Linked DNA regions of Homo sapiens. The protein of the gene in region 1 purifies or fractionates together with the protein of each later gene. This does not show direct contact. Each region holds a gene or a part of one and is shown in the gene's direction. Other genes may lie near its edges. The genes, in order: SCARF2 and TNFRSF13B.

Evidence for each region.
Region 2: the proteins of SCARF2 (region 1) and TNFRSF13B purify together in Homo sapiens (co-immunoprecipitation; one large-scale study listed by IntAct). This does not show direct contact.

Annotation. Positions count from the first base shown.
Region 1 is NC_000022.11:20,427,646-20,431,451, reverse strand, and holds part of SCARF2 (scavenger receptor class F member 2 isoform 2 precursor), read left to right. Parts: coding exon 1-434; intron 435-543; coding exon 544-762; intron 763-894; coding exon 895-1,023; intron 1,024-1,618; coding exon 1,619-1,722; intron 1,723-1,798; coding exon 1,799-1,916; intron 1,917-2,096; coding exon of another isoform or gene 2,097-2,111; coding exon 2,112-2,227; intron 2,228-3,806. UniProt on the Homo sapiens protein: Probable adhesion protein, which mediates homophilic and heterophilic interactions. In contrast to SCARF1, it poorly mediates the binding and degradation of acetylated low density lipoprotein (Ac-LDL).
Region 2 is NC_000017.11:16,951,328-16,955,133, reverse strand, and holds part of TNFRSF13B (tumor necrosis factor receptor superfamily member 13B), read left to right. Parts: intron 1-2,550; coding exon 2,551-2,688; intron 2,689-3,806. UniProt on the Homo sapiens protein: Receptor for TNFSF13/APRIL and TNFSF13B/TALL1/BAFF/BLYS that binds both ligands with similar high affinity. Mediates calcineurin-dependent activation of NF-AT, as well as activation of NF-kappa-B and AP-1.

The DNA of each region.
Region 1 (3,806 bases):
TGTACTTGTCACGCGCGGCGCTGGGGCGCGCGCTGCGAGCATGCGTGCCAGTGCCAGCACGGCACGTGCCACCCGCGGAGCGGCGCGTGCCGCTGTGAGCCCGGCTGGTGGGGCGCGCAGTGCGCCAGCGCGTGCTACTGCAGCGCCACGTCGCGCTGCGACCCACAGACCGGCGCCTGCCTGTGCCACGCAGGCTGGTGGGGCCGCAGCTGCAACAACCAGTGCGCCTGCAACTCGTCTCCCTGCGAGCAGCAGAGCGGCCGCTGTCAGTGCCGCGAGCGTACGTTCGGCGCGCGCTGCGATCGCTACTGCCAGTGCTTCCGCGGCCGCTGCCACCCTGTGGACGGCACGTGTGCCTGCGAGCCGGGCTACCGCGGCAAGTACTGTCGCGAGCCGTGCCCCGCCGGCTTCTACGGCTTGGGCTGTCGCCGCCGGTAAGCGCGGTCTCTCGGCCAGGGAGGGAGGAGGTGGAAGGGCGGGCCGCCGATGGGGACAGGGGTGAGGCGGGTCCCAGCCTTCCCTAGCCTCCGACCCCTCCCCCAGGTGTGGCCAGTGCAAGGGCCAGCAGCCGTGCACGGTGGCCGAGGGCCGCTGCTTGACGTGCGAGCCCGGCTGGAACGGAACCAAGTGCGACCAGCCTTGCGCCACCGGTTTCTATGGCGAGGGCTGCAGCCACCGCTGTCCGCCATGCCGCGACGGGCATGCCTGTAACCATGTCACCGGCAAGTGTACGCGCTGCAACGCGGGCTGGATCGGCGACCGGTGAGCAGCCCTGCCTGCGTCGGCCCAGACACGCAGTCCCCCGCCCTGCCTCCCTAACAAAGGCCCCAATGTCGAGGGCGCTGTGGTCCGTTTGCCTCCATTTCTGCTGACGCCTCCTCCCCTCTTTCCAAGGTGCGAGACCAAGTGTAGCAATGGCACTTACGGCGAGGACTGCGCCTTCGTGTGCGCCGACTGCGGCAGCGGACACTGCGACTTCCAGTCGGGGCGCTGCCTGTGCAGCCCTGGCGTCCACGGGCCCCAGTGAGTGCCCCGGGACCGGGAGGGGGTTGGGGGCTTGTACCTGCCACAGAGGGGGGTCCAGCCGACGAGGTGGCCTCTCCACCCTGAGCTGGGTTATCACCTCAGCCTTGGTCCCTTACCCCAGCTAGGGAGTGACAGTAGGCTCTTTGGGGGCAGTTTCCTGCCTGGATGTCGGGGAGCTCACGTTCAGCGCAGGATCTGGTGACCAGTCCAGCCTGTGTCAGTGGGCTCTTAAGGTGACCCCGAGTTGGTACAGAAGGACCAGGGACCTCCACTTACAGCCAAGGGTCTGGTTCAGCAGCCCCTCTTCCCACCTAGCCGAGTCAGCCCCAGCAGTGGGCGCTGCGGCGCGGCCACCACGGGTCCTATCCCCCAGGCCCCCCCACTAGTGTTGTGCAACATTCGTTTCCAAAACATCCACTACCCAATATGTGCCACGGGCGGGGCGGGGCTTCAATCCCTAGACGACGAATGCAGCGAGAGAGAGCCCGGTTCTGGGACCCTGGACCCTGGGCCCTGGCCGCGGGTGAGGGGTGAGGGTAGGGGGCATCCTAGGGGGGCGGCTGTGGCATGCCTTGACCCTATGTCCCGGCAGCTGTAACGTGACGTGCCCGCCCGGACTCCACGGCGCGGACTGTGCTCAGGCCTGCAGCTGCCACGAGGACACGTGCGACCCGGTCACTGGTGCCTGCCACCTAGGTAAGTGGATGAGGGGCGTCCCGTTAAGGAATGCAGGGGGTGCCAGAAACCGCGCTGACCCCATAACCCCCTACAGAAACCAACCAGCGCAAGGGCGTGATGGGCGCGGGCGCGCTGCTCGTCCTGCTCGTCTGCCTGCTGCTCTCGCTGCTCGGCTGCTGCTGCGCTTGCCGCGGCAAGGACCCTACGCGCCGGTGAGCCCAGATACTGCCCCGCTTTCGCCTGGGTTCAGGCCGCACCCTCTGGGTGCCACCGGACCCAGATCCAACCCTTCCGCGCCCCTGCCCCGGACGTGGCCCCGCCCCTTCTGTGCTTGGCTCCGGCCGAGATCTAATCGCCCCTGGGCCCCGCCCCGGCCCCGCCCCTCCGCTCAGACCCCGCCCCCGCAGGGAGCTTTCGCTTGGGAGGAAGAAGGCGCCGCACCGACTATGCGGGCGCTTCAGTCGCATCAGCATGAAGCTGCCCCGGATCCCGCTCCGGAGGCAGAAACTACCCAAAGTCGTAGGTAAGGATGACAGCGCGGGGTATCTGGGAGAAACACCTCTCGACGCAGGAAGCTGCTGGGAAATGGGTGTGAGGGGGTCCAGATCTCAGTGAGGAAATGGGGGACCTTGAGTGTTGATGTGCGTGGGCGCGAGGAGGTGCGACCAGAGGGAAGGTAAGAGGTGTGGCAGCTGCTGAGGGCGAGGCAAGGTAGGAAGGCAGGAGTCCTAGGTGCGCCGGCTGATGTGGGCATATGTCAGAAACGTTGGCCCTGAGAGTGATCGCATCAGGGGTGTGTGGACATCTGGGTCCCGCAGGCTCCCCCAGTCTGTAGGAGAATGCTGTATATCCCGGCCAGAGCTGCTGGGGGAATGCGTGGCCACGGGAGTGCCCTGCCCCACGGAGAGGACCCACCCTCCTGCCTACATCCCCAGCAGTACCCAGAGATCCTCCTGGAAAGTGGGCAGGCTGGTCCCCACCCACCAACAGGATAGGGGGGTGGGGTGTGCCGCTTCTCTCCATGCTGACTTGCACCTGGGTGGACCCTCTCTTCCTCTCTTTCCCACTTATTTCTAAAGATGGAGGGGAAGGGGGCTCAGACTCTTGGGAGATGAAGGAAACAGCTGAGAAAACCCCTTAGCCAAGCCGGGCATGGTGGCTCATGCCTGTAATCTCAGCACTTTGGGAGGCCGAGGCAGGTGGATCACCTGAGGCCTGGAGTTCAAGACCAGCCTGACCAACATGGAGAAACCCGGTCTCTACTAAAAATACGAAAGTAGCCGGGTGTGGTGGCGCATGCCTATAATCCCAGCTACTCTGGAGGCTGAGGCAAGAGAATCACTTGAACCTGGGAGGCAGAGGTTGCAGGGAGGCAGAGGTTGCAGTGAGCCGAGATCGCACCATTGCACTCCAGCCTGGGCAACAAGAGCAAAACTGTCAAGAAAAAAGAGAAGAGAAGAGAGGAGAGGAGAGGAGAAGAGAAGAGAAGAGAAAAGAAGAAAGAGAAGGAAGGGAGGGAGGGAGGGAGGGAGGGAGGAGAAACCCCAAAACTGTCGAAAGAAAAGAAAAAGCAAGCAAGCAAGAGAGAGAAAACCCCTTGGCCCACCTAGCAGCATGGCATCTGGGGACATAGGTGTGGGGAGTGGACCCCACATCCCTCTGTGGAATGGAGGCCAGGCTAGCCAGCTTCTGGGGCCCCCTGTTGTGGGGTCTGCATCTCTGGAGGCCAGGCCTAGGGTGCAGCTTGCTGAGATGGGCTGAGCCAAAGGGCAGCCCTGCCACTGCGCATTTGGGCTCAGAAGTGCTCCAAGGCTTCCTTATTCGCACAAGGCAGGGCCTAAAACAGAGCTTGGAGGCCTTGGTGGCCTGTCCCAGCCAGGTGTCTTCTTCAGCCCCGTCTCCCACCTTTCTGGCCTTTTCTCAACACGTCAGCCCAACCTTTTCCAGCTCCCTGGATGCACACACTTGCCTTGCACCTTAACACATGTTGTGCCCATGTTTCTTTTCTGGGTTCACCTCTACCCATTCTCCAGTCCTGGCCCAGTGTCACTGTACCTGTTGAGTTGCCTGTGCCCCCTGCAGTCCAAGAATAGGGCTGGTCT
Region 2 (3,806 bases), on another chromosome or scaffold:
ACGTAGAAGCTTTGCCCCAGTGGGATCAGGCAGGGACTTGGACATTTTCTGGAGAGAATCTCCCGCTGTCAGTGCCTCTGGGTCTTTTCCTTTGGGTCTGTTTTCCCAGAGCAGAGACTTCTGATTTCCTGCCAGTTGCAGGGTAGGGAGGGAGGCATCTTTAAAAACCTGGTTGCCACACTCCTTAGATAGAAACTGGGGTGGGTAAGGAGAGGGGAGACTGGCTGTCCAGGAGGAAGATTATCACAATTCCCCTGTTGCCAGGAAGGACCACGTTGCTACCCTCAGCTGTGTCCAAGGAGACCCCACTCTTATGCCTGGGTGGGTGAGGGACTGGCACCTGCCTTGGAATGGGGATGTGCTGGGGTCACACCCTCTTTATGTAAGTTTCCAACCAATCCTCTTACAGAGCTTCACCCCTTCTGCCCAGCCCTGCCGTCAGAGATACGTGGTGCCTCCAAATCTGGAGACTTCCTTGAGTTCTGTGACTCAGAACAACTTCCTTCCCATGTAGGCATCAATGATGAGAGATTCTCAAAGGCAGTCAGGCACTCTGGTTCCTCCATCTCCCAGAATGTTAGAGACATGTGTTCTTTGCTGTAGAAACCTCTGCCATTCCCTTGATCTCTGAAGATAGATGGACTTGACTGTCAGCTTTGCATGGTTTCAGGAGGGAAGGAAGATAAACCCCTGTGTTTAAGCTGCCGTGTTAAATGAGAGGCCCCTGGTCTTTTTTCTTTTCCTTTTTTAGAGACTGGGTCTCACTCTGTTATCCAGGCTGGAGTGCAGTGATGTGGTCATAGCTCACCTCAGCCTTGAACTCTCAGGCTCAAGCGATCCTCCTGTCTCAGCCTCCTGAATAGCTGGGACTACAGCACGTGGCTAATTTTAAAAATCCTTTTGTAGAGACAGGATCTCACTATGTTTCTCAGGCTGATCTTGAACTCCTGGCCTCAAGAAATCCTCCCACCTCTACCTCCCAAAATGCTCGGATTACAGGCATGAGCCATGGTGCCCAGCCACCTCTGGTCTTCCCTCAGCTTGCTTTCGTTAAAGAACAAACACATGCCACTGGGCGTGGTGGCTCATGCCTATAATCCCAGCACTTTGGGAGGCCGACTCGGGCGGATCACGAGGTCAGGAGTTTGAGACCAGACTGGCCAACATAGTGAAACCCGCTCTCTACTAAAAATACAAAAATTAGCCAGACATGGTAGCATGCACTTGTAATCCCAGCTACTTGGGAGGCTGCAGGAGAACTGCTTGAACCCGGGAGGTGGAGGTTGCTGTGAGCCAAGATCACACCCACTGCACTCCAGCCTGGGCAACAGAGAAAGACTCCATCTAAGAAAAAAAAAAGAACAAACATATGCCTTGCAAAATGCTTTTAAGCATTTTTAAGGAGAAGTTATTGGGGGAAGCAAATGTCATGAAATCAGAAGAGGATGGAGAAGGTGATGCATGCACACAGTGGAAGATTCACAGTAACACAAAACCAGACATGCAGAGAGCGCCCACATGGATGAGTCTCAGGCACCAAGTGGAGGAACAAAACCAGACACGGAAGTACCAGAAGGGGCAATATTAGCCTATGAGGGTAACAACAGAACAGTAGCTCCCTCTAGGCATGGGCATTGGGTGTCGGGGGACCCCAGGGAGGCTTCAGGGGTGAGGAAATGTCCTACATCTCCATGTGGGCTGTAATGACACAGGTGCATACATACATCAAATTTCACCAAGCTGTATTCTTCAGCTTTTTGTGCACTTTACACACATCATTGTGGTTGTTTCATACTTTAGTAAAAAAGAAAACAAGAAGGAAATTGACATTCTTGGTTCTTGCTGTGTGCTAGGCACTGAGTTGGTCCGTACTTAAAGAAACCATTCACTTAATGAGCAGGTGCTGTGTCCTAAGTACTATCTAGGTTCTGAGGACTCAGCAATTAATAAGAAAAATTAGGCACAGTCCCTGCCAGATGGTGCTCACAGTTAGTGTAGGAGCCAGCATCAAATAACCACATGCATAGAAGGAAAGTGACCACAGCAACAGGTAAAGGGCAGTGCGAGTGTGTAGAAGAAGGACCGTGTCCTAGTCTAGGGGGTGAGTCAGAAAGGCTTCCCTTGGAGATCAGGTTTAGACAGAGGTCTCAGTCTGAGAAGGAATAAACAGCTGAGGGGCAGGGGCTGGGGAGAAGGGCACGTCATGTGAGGGAACAGCAGGTGCAAAGACCCTGTGGCAGGGAGAGGCGTGGCACGTTAAGGAGGGCAGGGAACAGGGCCCAGTAGGGCACTGCTGATGTGAGAGAGCAGGGGGCCTGAAAACAACCATGTGCAGATGGGGAAACTGAGGCTGGAGAGGGGAGGTGGCTGCCCCAGGCCCCTAGCAAGTGCAGTGGGGGCTAGAAGCCAACTTTGTCTGCCCTCTCTGCTCCTCAGACAGAAAGGTTGTCTGTGCGAATGTGGGCAGGAGAGGCCGTCTTGGTTCCCATCAGGGACAAGAGGCCGGGCTGTGGCCGCCTGCCAGCTGCCCTCACTCTCCTGGTCTCTCAGTTCCACAGGGCCTGTGGACGGGGGTGGCTATGAGATCCTGCCCCGAAGAGCAGTACTGGGATCCTCTGCTGGGTACCTGCATGTCCTGCAAAACCATTTGCAACCATCAGAGCCAGCGCACCTGTGCAGCCTTCTGCAGTGAGTTCTGGGGCCTGAGCCGAGGGGACAGTGTGATCACCCTCCTCCTTTCTCCCTAGAGCACCCTCTGGCCCCACAGTCAGGTGGCTGAGGAAAGGGTGGCAGGAGGAGATGTACAGTGTGGCACCTCTTACCCCTCCACCTTTCTGCTTTGGTCACACAACCTCCTTTCGGTGTCTCAAACACAGTCCATTCTTTCCTGCCTCAGTTCCTTTGCACATGCTATTCCCGCTGCCTGGAATGCATTCCCTCTATCATCTTCCCTCAGCTCCCTCCTACTCAACCTTCAGGTCTCAGCCCAAACGTCAGGGGTCTCCTCTGACCACCCAGTAGAACTAGGCCCTCCCTTGTCACTGTGTGTTGTTACATTCTTTTGAAACTTTTTATTACAGAACTTATCACACATGTACATAGAGAGGACAGCACAATGACGCCCTCTGCACCCATCACCAGCTTCACAAATTGTTTAAATTCTGCCTTGTACTTTCCCAACCAATTTTTTTGACTTGTGTATTTTATTTTATTTATTTTATTTTTTATTTTTATTTTTATTTTTTGAGATGAAGTTTCGCTCTTGTTGCTCAGGCTGGAGTGCAATGGTGCGATCTTGGCTCACCGCAACCTCCACCGCCCGGGTTCAAGTGATTCTCCCTCCTCAGCCTCCCGAGTAGCTGGGATTACAGGCATGTGCCACCACACCCGGCTAATTTTGTATTTTTAGTAGAGATGGGGTTTCTCCATGTTGGTCAGGCTGGTCTTGAACTCCTGACCTTAGGTGATCCACCCACCTCGGCCTCCCAAAGTGCTGGGATTACAGGCGTGAGCCACTGCACCCAGCCTGCCTTGTGTATTTTAAAGCACAGCCAAGATCTCATATAATTTTACCTGCAGATACTGGACCACGAAAACCTGTGAAACATAATCCAAATATCCTATCACTGCCAGCAATAATTTATTAACATCATCTAATACTCAGGCAATATCCAGTTTTCCCTGATTGTCTTGAAAATTATTCGTTGCTTGCTGTTCTTTTTCATAACCTGTTCTTTTCCTTGATAGAACTTACCACAATTTGCTGTTTTGTTCTTTCATGTGTATGTGTTTTATGTCTGACTCAA